Homo sapiens: one gene and its partners. The protein of the gene in region 1 purifies or fractionates together with the protein of each later gene. This does not show direct contact. Each region holds a gene or a part of one and is shown in the gene's direction. Other genes may lie near its edges.

Region 1 (3,651 bases):
GAGGTTGTATATTTTAGTAGAAAGGGTTTGGGCTTTGGAGTCACCTGGTCCTGGGTTTGACCCCAAGCTCTGCCACTTATTTAGTGGGTAAACCAGGGAATAATGTAAAGATAGTAAGTAAAACAGTACCTACCTCTCAGGGCTGTAGTAATTAAGGCACTAATGTAATGAATTAAGGGGCTAGTGTATGTAAAGACCTGCCACATAGGAAGTACTCATGGGTGAAATAAATATCTTAATTTTTAATGTTAGTAATTTAGTGATTAAAAAATGAAATAGTCACAGATAATTGGTGGACAAGAGTAACTTTAAAGGAAATTTGGTCCATTTTAAAGAAAAGGAAACTGAAACTCAGTGAGGTGTAGCACCCTACCCAACTGCCCACCCTAAGAAAACCAGACCCAAGATTCTAGAAAGGTTGGGCCAGGGAAATGATTGTAGGCTCAGGGATGACTTCTCCTGAACCAGCTTCCCAATTTCATCCTGGTCCCGGGATTGGTGGCCAATGCCCCATTTAGTTGTTACAATCAAGGGAAGAGGGCAGGCCGACTGAACCCTGGGACCGTCACCTGTGTCTCCTGGTAAGTGCTGATCTTCACCCTCACTTTAGCTTTCCACCTTCCAGCAGTCCCTCATTTCTATCAACTTGCCCATTCTCTTTTCATTAAACTTGCTTTTCATGTTGCGCCAGCATCAAGATAAAGACATTTTTTATTCAGTTTTGTTGTTACAATCCACAGCATGTTTTACTCTTTTGATTATAAACTTGCTCTGTTTTAACACATCATGGGTTAAAAGGGCTTCTGTGGACTAGTGTGGACTAATAGCATACTGATAGCCTTCTGTGGACTGATAGCATACTGATATCTTTGTATGACCTTGTATGAAAACTCAGGAACACAAGATATATTTTCTTTCCCAAAACTTAATTTCTGAAGCTGAAACTCTACTCTGTCCTTTTGGTTCACTTAGCCTCATCACTCCATGTGTTGTCCCCTTTCCTGATATGTGTGAGCAAAGGTTTCTTAAAAGTGCTGTGGCCTTGGAGAGGATGGCACTTCAGTCCTCAGCTTACACAGTTAACCAGCAAAGTGGAGCAGGAGCATTGGCTGCCCCACCCTACCTGGTCCTTGCCCTCTGCACTGCCTCCCCATCCTCTGTTTCTTCACTCCTGCTCCTGTGGTGCCCTGGGGGAAGTTAACACACGTCCTCTCTGCACTAAGGACCTTCAGCCTCCACTCTTCTCAAGGGAGAAAAAATTTATCTCTAGGAGAAATATTTCTCCCTTCAGGACACTCCTTTGCCAACAGATGTCTTTCCCCTGAGAGCTTAGGCTTCCCTAAAATAAAAACATGAAAGACAAGCTTTCTCCCCTGCCATAGGCTTCCCTAAAAGGCAGTGATCACCAAGCTAGCTTAAATTAGGGAAGAGGAAAATTTGAGAAGGGGCGAAATAAACATCACCCAGCCCCCTTTCTTTGGAAATACAGATTCAAGATTTCAAACTACTGACCTTCAGGTGAAACTTTGGGGATGTTGAGACTTAAAATGCTCAAATAAAAACCCTGGTGCAAAATGATGCTGTAGCAGTCAATGATTCTACAATGGCATTTTTCTGTGTTTGCCTGCAGGATACCTTAAGGAGATGAAAACATGTAGATAAGTGTATATAATTTATATAGAAAAATCTTTTATTAAAATTTATGTTTTGACATTACGGCTGAAGAAAATTGATTTGTAAATAGGATCCAAGACCCTCACTATTTTAAACCATCTCTCATAGTACAAGTGGGGAATAGACATTTTCCTTCTTAGTGTTCACAGGGATGCCCTTGGGTTTCCCTCTCTCGGCCTCAGGGGTGTTTCCTAGAAAAGATCCTCAGGGAAGTTAATGAATATGTCTGTATGAGTTAGGGAAAGCATGGCTTTAGTTTATAACTTCTGCAATCATCAAGTTAAAAATAGAATGATGCATCTAGCTATTATTCACTCGATGCTTATTCATTTAAAAAACGGATTTTTACTTCATTATTTTTATGATAGGAAAAGAACATCCCTCTTGAAAAATAAACATATTAAAAATCCTTTGAATTTTATTGCTAAAATACTTATTAACAAACACATCTTCTTTCCAAACACATCTTTTTTTTAGATCTCATGGTGGATGTTCCTGGACATGGAAAGGTGATGGTGGACATTGCATATGGCGGTGCATTTTATGCATTTGTTACTGCTGAAAAGTTAGGACTAGACATTTGTTCTGCAAAGACCAGGGACCTTGTGGATGCAGCGAGTGCAGTGACAGAGGCAGTGAAAGCTCAGGTCAGTAATACTCTGCCTTCATAACCAATTCCCTTCTCTGTGGCATGGAGGAAATATACATTATTATGTCTATAAAGAAAATTAAATGATGTTTAAATTATTAATAGTACTAAGAATAGGGTACTTATTAAAATCTTAGGCTCTAGAGCAAGCTTGTCCCACCCGTGGCCTGTGAGCCACATGCAGCCCAGGATGGCTTTGAATGTGGCCCAACACAAATTTTGTAAACTTTCTTAAAACATTATGAGTTTTTTTGCAATTTTTTTTTAGCTCATCAGCTCTCGTTAGTGTTAGTGTATCTTATGTGTGGCCCAAGACAATTCTTCTCCCAGTGTGGCCCAGAGAAGCCAAAAGATTGGACATTCCTGCTCTAGAGCAAAACTATCTATGAGTTCTAGCTTTACCACTGGTAACGTATATAACCTTGGGCAAGTTACGTAACCTCCATATGCCTCAGTTTTCCTGTCTGCAAAATGGAAATTAAAAAATACCTGCTTTGTAGGGTTGTGAGAATGAAATAAGTCAATACATGTAAAGGACTTAGAGTAGTGTCTGGCCAATAGTAAATGTTCAGTAAATGATAATATTATTTTTTTTGAGACAGGGTCTTGCTCTGTCACCCAGGCTGTAGTGCAGTGGTGTGATCATAGCTTACTGTAACTTCAAATTCCCAGGCTCAAAATGATGCTTCTGCCTCAGCCTCCAGAGTAACTGGGACCACAGGCATGCCCCATCACACCCAGCTAAATCTGTGTTTGTGTGAGTGTGTGTGTGTGTTTATATAGAGACAGGATGTCACTATGTTGCCCAGGATGGCCTCAAACTCCTGGCCTCAAGTGATTCTCCCAGCTCGGCCTCCCAAAGTGTTGGGATTACAGGTGTGAGCCACCACACCTAGCAGTTACTAAATTTAATAATACATACATACTAATATAGTTTATAGTTCCTTAAATGTGTAGAAATATATTTATAGAATTCTGCAAATTTTAAATGCATGTGTGTGGTCATTCTGTTAAACTTGAAAATAATAAATGTAAAATATAGTGTACAGAATAGATTTAAGCCTTTTTCTTATTTCATAGAGAACATTAATTCCTATTATTTTTTTCCTACATTGCTAAGAAGTTACTCAAATAACTACTTAAATAACTCTAGTTTTTACTTGGGAAAGCTAATTTGATAAAATCAGTTTAGATAATAATTCTAGGATATTCTTTCACTTCTAGCACGAGTGAAGCACATTTTACCTTGAAATTGGGACCTATAAATAAAACACATGTACAGTATTTGAATGTTTAGTACGTGAGAATTTAGTATGTGAGAATTTATT
Region 2 (3,751 bases), on another chromosome or scaffold:
AGGAAAACAGCATGTGCCAATGCTCATACTCTGCCTATCCCAGTGTGGAGGGAGCTGAAACCACAGCGACCACTGAGTAGGGAGGGATAGGACAAGCTCACTAGGTTGGAAAGGAGGGGTCATTCGTTGAGCCAATCACTCAGCCCTTTCCAAAACGCCTACTCTGTGCTAGGTTGTGAGGGCACAAGACTTACAGACCACCTGCCCTGCCTGCCAGTGGCTCATAGTCCAGTCTAATGCTAGCCAACCTGTCTCACCATCTTCCCACTTTATGTTCTATCTAAGGCAACTCATTTATTCCCACAGCTTTACTTCCATCTGTTGATGACTCTCAACTTTTCATATCTCCAACCTAGACCTTTCTTCAGCTTCCACAGCTGTATATCCAACTATCTACTGGATATCTCTTGTATGTTTCACAAATCCCCAAGGCTTACCATATTTAAATTTAACTTTTTCATTGTCTACCCACACCTCAACAACAGAAAAAACAAATGTTGGATGTAATTATTATCTTTCCTAAATTCCGTATCTTGTTAAATGGATTAAACCATTCTCACTCTTGGCTTCCAATTTGTTGCCAAGTTTTGTTGATTCTCCTACCAAATATTTCCCAAATCTATCTCCACCTTTCCATCCCGATTCAGGCGCTCATCATTTTTTAAAATCTTGGAATAGGCTGGGTGTGGTGGCATGCATCTGTAGTCCCAGCTATTTGGGAGGCTGAGGCAGGAGGATCACTTGAGCCCAGGAGTTAGAGGCTGCAGTGAGCTATGATCACACCAATGTACTCCAGCATGGAGAAAAGAGCAAGACCCTGTCTCAAAAACGGCAACAACAACAACAACAAAACAACAGAAAAAAAAACTTGGAATACATCAATAGTCTCCTAATCGGTCTCTAATTTCATCTCTGTTCAGTCTTCCCTCTTCTGCCAGAGTGACCTTCCTCAGGGACTGATCATGTCTCTTCATTGGCAATGGCTTTCCATTGCCGTCAATTTGATCTCTTTGGCCTACCACACAAAGCCTTTGATTATCTGTTTCTTTTTTTAAATAATTTAATTTGAGTACCAATATTTAGGTCCTTTCTACCACCAATATTGAACCCAAGTTCTCATAGTTTCAGAAAATGCCATGACTTGTAGCCGTTTCCTCCACCCTAGAACACCCTTTCCCCCAGGCCCTTCAGTGTCTGCTGACTCAACGTTAAATGCCCTTTTGCTGTGCTCCACAGCACCTCAGTAGTTGTTAGACATCTAGCTTCTCTAGACCGTGAGTTCTGATGGGCAGCCACCATGTCTAACTCGTCCACTTTCTCTCAGTATATGGCCCTGCACCAGGCACAGACAGATGATGCTCAGAAAACATTTGACGAATAAATGATTGAGTAAACGAAGAGTTACTGTACTCTGATCGCCTTTACAGAGAGAACATCTGGGCCTCAGAGACACCAGAACACCCAGCGGCCCGCGTCCAGGGAGTCTAGAACCTTGGGCTCCCGCGCACACCCAGGCCAGGTCCTGGCCGTCATTCTCCCGCCGGCCTCTGGGGGAGCTGCGCGGTCCGCGCTCTCTCTCCGCTGCCGGAATTCGTCTTGCCTGACGGAAGCTGGGGAGCGGGCAGGCGGCGGGGGCGGGGCCTGGAGGAGCCTACACCGACTCTGGAGGAAGACTGGAGCCTTTGCGGCGGCGCTGCCCCTCCCCTGGTCCCCGCGAGCTCGGAGGGCCCGGCTGGTGCTGCGGGGGCCCCGGGAGGTACGGACCTGGGAGGCGAGGCTCGTCCGGCGCTAGGATCGGCCTCCGCCTCCGGGCCGCTTTAGGTGGCTGGTCTCTGCCTCTCATTCCCTCTGGGGGCTCCCCCGTGAGAAAATCTGTGGCGGAGGCACCTCTGGCCCACTCTTATGGTGTCCTTTATTGTGGGGCTCGCTATATGGAGAGGGGGTCTGTGTCAGGAGCTTCCCCTGGAGAGGTTTCTGTTAGGGACCGTCTTTGGGAGTGATCTATCTCTGCTCTCTGGGGGGGATCTTTGTCTGGAGCTTTTGGGGGGCTTGTGTTTGGAAGTTTGCCTTCGGGGAGATATCTGTCTGGGACCTCTTAGGGTTTCTGTATCTGAGCTTTCTCTTTTGTGTCTGTCAGTCCAAGGGCAGCAAAAAGTATGTCCTTTCTGAAGCCTTTTTTTCCGTAGGTTTCTTCATTCTTTTCTCTCTTGTCTTATGTTCATTTTAGCCATAGACTTGACTGGAGTTTAGAGGGAATTGATTGTTGTCCAGATGAGTCGTACAGGAAAGCAGATTGTCTTTTTTTGAGACGGAGTCTTGCTCTGCCGCCCAGGCTGGAGTGCAGTGGCATATTCTTGGCTCACTGCAATCTCCGCCTCCTGGATTCAAGCGATTCTCCTGCCTCAGCCTCTCAAGTAGCTGGGATTACAGGCACCCGCCACCACGCCTGACTAATTTTTTGTATGTTTAGTAGAGATGAGGTTTCACTATGTTGGCCAGTCTGGTCTCGAACTCCTGACTTTGTGATCTGCCCACCTCGGCCTCCCGAAGTGCTGAGATTACAGGCGTGAGCCACCGTGCCCTGCCCCAGATTATCCTTTTTATTTGCTCAGTCCCCCCAGGGAGCAGATGGCTTCAGACAGCCACACAAAACACTGTTCCTGCTTAATTCTCCATGGGGTCATGGTTAAAGAGAGGAAGCTGGGCTGAGCTCCCTTTACTAATTGGTCCTCTACATCTTGCGCACAGAAGGGAACCTGGCCCAGTGGCCAGTGACTCTCCTCTCCCTTTATGGCAGCATTTCCAAGCACCTGCCCTGTGACAGATACTGGCTAGGTACTGGGGATAACAAAGACGAATAAAATAACAGCTTACCATCCAGTAGTAGACATGGAGACATCCGTTTCCTCTGACTAGCATTGGGATGGTGCTGAAACCCTGGAACTATACATTCAGTTTAGAACTATACATTCAGTTTAGAACTCTCAGTTATGGACGTTCTGCCTTCTGTTTTTTTGGTTTTTGTTTTTGTCCACCAGAAAACATCTGCTAGTAACTGCCTTCTGTGTTGATGCTTTCTTTCCTCACCTTACCCAGCGTGCTTCTGTTCTTCAAGGTTGAAAACTAAGCATGGGGAAGAGCTGCAAGGTGGTCGTGTGTGGCCAGGCGTCTGTGGGCAAAACTTCAATCCTGGAGCAGCTTCTGTATGGGAACCATGTAGTGGGTGAGTGTTGTTGGAGGGGGAGGAACAGTGGAAGAAGTTGAAAAATAAGGAATAGGACTTGATCACAACACACACAGGCTAAAAGCTGCTCCTGGTGGTTTTCCCCCCTGGAAGAATAAAACTTACATTGTAACAGATCAACTCTACAACACTGAACAAATACGGAGGGAGAAAGCCCTATGTCCAAGATAGGAAAGAGAAGCTGTCATGTCACACTTGTGCTTAGCATGGAATTAGCATAAAATTAATGTCCATTGGCCGGGTGCGGTGGATCACGCCTGTAATCCGAGCACTTTGGGAGGCTGAGGCGGGTGGATCACCTCAGGTCGGGAGTTCGAGACCAGCCTAACGAACTTGGAGAAACCCTGTCTCTACTAAAAATACAAAATTAGCCGGGTGTGGTGGCACATGCCTGTAATCCCAGCTATTCGGGAGGCCGAGGCAGGAGAATCGCTTGAACTCGGGAGGTGGAGGTTGCGGTGAGCCGAGATTGCGCCATTGCACTCCAGCCTGGGCAACGAGAGCAAA
Region 3 (3,651 bases), on another chromosome or scaffold:
TAGGTGCCTGTAATTACAGCTACTTGGGAGGCTGCGGCAGGATAATGGCCTGAACCTGGGAGGCAGGGGTTGCAGTGAGCTGAGATCACGCCACTGCACTCCATCCTTGGTGACAGAGCAAGACTCCATCTCAAAAAAAAAAAAGAAATTGGGTTGTCTAGGCACAGTGGCTCGTGCCTGTAATCCCAGCATTTTGGGAGGCTGACGTAGAAGAATCACTTGAGCCCAGGAGTTTGAGACCAGCCTGGACAACATAGTGAGACCCCATCTGTACCAAAAAAAAAAACACCAGACCTGGTGGCACATGTTTGTAGTCCCAGCTACTCAGGGGCTGAGGTGGGAGGATCACTTGAGCCCAGGAAGTCAAGGCTTCAGTGAGCCATGATGGTGCCACTGCACTACAGCCTGGGCAACAGAGCAAGACCCTGTCTCAAAAAAAAAAAAAAATTGGGTTGGTTATAGTGTAGTTACCTGAAAACTTACAAAACAGAACAGTTTGGGGAACAAATGGAAGTGTCAAATAGGCAGCTGAGTCTATGCATCTGGAGCATAATAGAGAGTTCCAGGATAGGCCGGGTGCGGTAATGCCTGTAATCCTAGCACTTTGGGAGGCAGAGGCAGGTGGATCACCTGAGGTCAGGAGTTCGAGACCAGCCTGGCCAAGATGGCGAAACCCCGTCTCTACTAAAAATACAAAAATTAGCCATGCATGGTGGCGCAGGCCTGTAATCCCAGCTACTTGGGAAGCTGAGGCAGGAGAATCGCTTGAACCTGGGGGGCAGAGGTTGCAGTGAGCGGAGATTGTGCCACTTCACTCCAGCCTGGGCGAAAGAGCAAAACTCCATCTCAAAAAAAAAAAAAAAAAGAGAGAGTTCTAGGATAGAGTAACAGATTTGGAAATGCATCAATAGTTGAAGCCTGGAGAGCAGATAAAATTACCCAAGTAGAGCATGTAGAGTAAAAAGAAAGGAAAGGTATGGACAGAACCCTGACAAAACACCAGGATTACAGTTGGGATCTGAAAGAGGAATCTGTGGATACTGAGGAAAGGTAGCCAGAAAGGTTCAAAGTAACGCCAAGAAAAAATGGTGTCGGCCAGGCCCAGTGGCTCACACTTGTAATCCTAACACTTTGGAAGGCCAAGGCGGGCAGATCGCTTGAGCCTAGGAATTTGAGACCATCCTGAGCAACATGGTGAGACCGTCTCTACAGAAAAATACAAAAATTACCCAAGCGTGGTGGCACGCACCTGTGGTCCCAGCTGCTTGGGAGGCTGAGATGAGAGGATCACCTGAGCCCAGGGAGGTCAAGGCTGCAGTGAGCTACAATCACACCACTGCACTCCAGCCTGGGTGACAAAGACCCTGTCTTTAAAAGGAAAAAAAAAATGGTGTCATAAAACCAAGGAGCCACATAAAGTTTTAAGAAGGAAAAAATGTCCAACCATGTCATATGCTTCCAAAAGGTTAAATAAGATCAGAAGTGGAAATTATTATTTGAACTTAACAACATAGAATCCTTAAGGACAGTTGTGGAATTTCACTGGAATGCGAGTGACAATTGACATTTCAGTACAATAGTGGAAATGGGTTGCGTAAATCTAGGTAGAGATACAACTGAGATGGCCAACTGTTTGAGAAGCTTGGCTGTGACACTAAGGAAAAGAAGAGAAGGCATAGGGTTGAAAGAGAATTCTAGAGTAGAAAGAGACTTGGACAGGGTAAAGGCTGATAAGAAGGCGGTAGAGAAGGAAAGCCTGAAGATGTTAGAGGACAGGGTAAAATAGAGCTGGATCCCCAAGAATGAATGAGAGAGTAAGATTTGGAATACCAATATGGGCATTAACCTTAGGTAAAAGGAGCATTTTTCAGCTGTGATAAAAGTGAGTGAAAATATGAATCAAGAACAAAAAAGAAATGTGGTGAGGATGTGCACAGAGCTGAGTGAGTTCTGGCCTAGTGTCTTCTATTTTCTCTGTGAAATGAGAGGCAAAGTCATCTGCCGAGAGTGAGAAGGAAGAAGGGTCAAGTTGGAGACTTGAAAGTAATGGAGAAGAGTTAAAATAGAGAGAGAAAGGCCGGATGTGGTGGCTCACACCTATAATCCCAGCACTTGGAGTCCGAGGCAGGCAGATCACCTGAGGTCAGGAGTTCGAGACCAGCCTGGCCAACATTGTAAAACCCCAACTCTACTAAAAATACAAAAATTAGCCTAGCGCAGTGGTGGTTGCCTGTAATCCCAACTACTCAGTAGGCTGAGACAGGAGAATCACTTGAACCCGAGAGGCAGAGGTTGCAGTGAGCCGAGATCATGCCACTGCACTCCAGCCTGGGTGACGAGCAAAACTCCGTCTCAGAAAAAAATTAAAATAAATGTTAAATAATAAAATAGGGAGAGAAAGATTGGAGATGAGCTTAGAAAACCTGTTTGAAGTCGGAATTTGTCTAGACACCAGTCTACATGACTGAATGATTTTTTTCCAACCAATGTAATTGTTACTGTGTAGGAAAAGAAATGGTGAACCATTAAATCCAAGCTCCTCACCAGAAAACTTTACACTATAGCTAAATGTTTCTCTAAATCTTTTCCTCAGCCCATTCCAGATGATGGGATTTATTGGCAGGCCAACCTTGACAGATTCCACCAACACTTCCGTGACCAAGCCATTGTGAGCGCAGTTGCTAACAGGATGGACCAGGTAATACCTAAGTGGGTCTGTCATTGGTCATCAGGGACATTTACTTATTTGTCAGATATGGCCATTGGCACATAGAGCCAGGGGCAGCACTGTGATTTCTGAATTCTAGTTTACTTTTCAAACAGACAAGCAGCGAGATTGTGCGAACCATGCTCCGAATGAGTGAGATTACCACTTCCTCTAGTGCTCCCTTCACCCAGCCATTGTCTTCCAATGAGGTGAGTTTCATGTTCTTGCACTAACTTTCTGACAGATTCTTGGGTGTTATCAACGTTTATTATACACAGATCCTGAGTTTGGGTTGAGGTCTGAGCCTTGAAAGAGAAGGGCATTTGATGTGGAGCAGGGATTATCTTCAAGTGATGAGCACTGAAATGTTTGGTCTCTTAGGATCCAGCTTTTAAAAATCTACACTATTCACTTAGTCAAAGTATCTATTCGTCAAGTACAGCCTATTCCTAATTATTTTAAGAATCCACAATTTGGACTCTGAGAGCCTTGGCATTCAGGACATTATTTGACCCCCTGTACTTAAAATATCGATATTTAATATATCCAATATGTGTTATTTATATTACTTTCATAGTAATACAGTCATGCATCACTTAACAGCAGGGATACATTCTGAGAAATGTGTCGTTAGGTGATTTCATCATTGTGTGAACATCATAGGGTGTACTTAACACAAACCTAGATGGTGTAGCCCTACAGCACACCTAGACTGAACGGGATAGCCTATGGCTTCTAGGCTGTAAACCTGTACAGCATGTTACTGTACTGAATACTGTAGGCAGTTGTAACGCAGTAGCATCTGTGTATCTAAACATCTAATCACAGAAAAGGTACAGTAAAAATATGGTATGAAAAATTAAAAACCACACCTGTTTAGTGCACTTAACATGAATGGAGCTTTCAGGACTAAAAGTTGCCCTGTGGGAGTTAGTGAATGAATG

Evidence for each region.
Region 2: the proteins of L3HYPDH (region 1) and NKIRAS2 purify together in Homo sapiens (affinity purification with mass spectrometry; 2 studies listed by BioGRID and IntAct, with this or other methods). This does not show direct contact.
Region 3: the proteins of L3HYPDH (region 1) and POLR3C purify together in Homo sapiens (affinity purification with mass spectrometry; 2 studies listed by BioGRID and IntAct, with this or other methods). This does not show direct contact.

What each region holds. Positions count from the first base shown.
Region 1 is NC_000014.9:59,477,852-59,481,502, reverse strand, and holds part of L3HYPDH (trans-3-hydroxy-L-proline dehydratase), read left to right. Parts: intron 1-2,151; coding exon 2,152-2,321; intron 2,322-3,651. UniProt on the Homo sapiens protein: Catalyzes the dehydration of trans-3-hydroxy-L-proline to Delta(1)-pyrroline-2-carboxylate (Pyr2C). May be required to degrade trans-3-hydroxy-L-proline from the diet and originating from the degradation of proteins such as collagen-IV that contain it.
Region 2 is NC_000017.11:42,018,449-42,022,199, forward strand, and holds the start of NKIRAS2 (NF-kappa-B inhibitor-interacting Ras-like protein 2), read left to right. Parts: upstream 1-1,641; 5' UTR 1,642-1,756; exon of another isoform or gene 1,757-1,821; intron 1,822-3,096; exon of another isoform or gene 3,097-3,115; 5' UTR 3,116-3,129; coding exon 3,130-3,223; intron 3,224-3,751. UniProt on the Homo sapiens protein: Atypical Ras-like protein that acts as a potent regulator of NF-kappa-B activity by preventing the degradation of NF-kappa-B inhibitor beta (NFKBIB) by most signals, explaining why NFKBIB is more resistant to degradation.
Region 3 is NC_000001.11:145,830,667-145,834,317, forward strand, and holds part of POLR3C (DNA-directed RNA polymerase III subunit RPC3), read left to right. Parts: intron 1-2,593; coding exon 2,594-2,698; intron 2,699-2,807; exon of another isoform or gene 2,808-2,823; coding exon 2,824-2,916; intron 2,917-3,651. UniProt on the Homo sapiens protein: DNA-dependent RNA polymerase catalyzes the transcription of DNA into RNA using the four ribonucleoside triphosphates as substrates.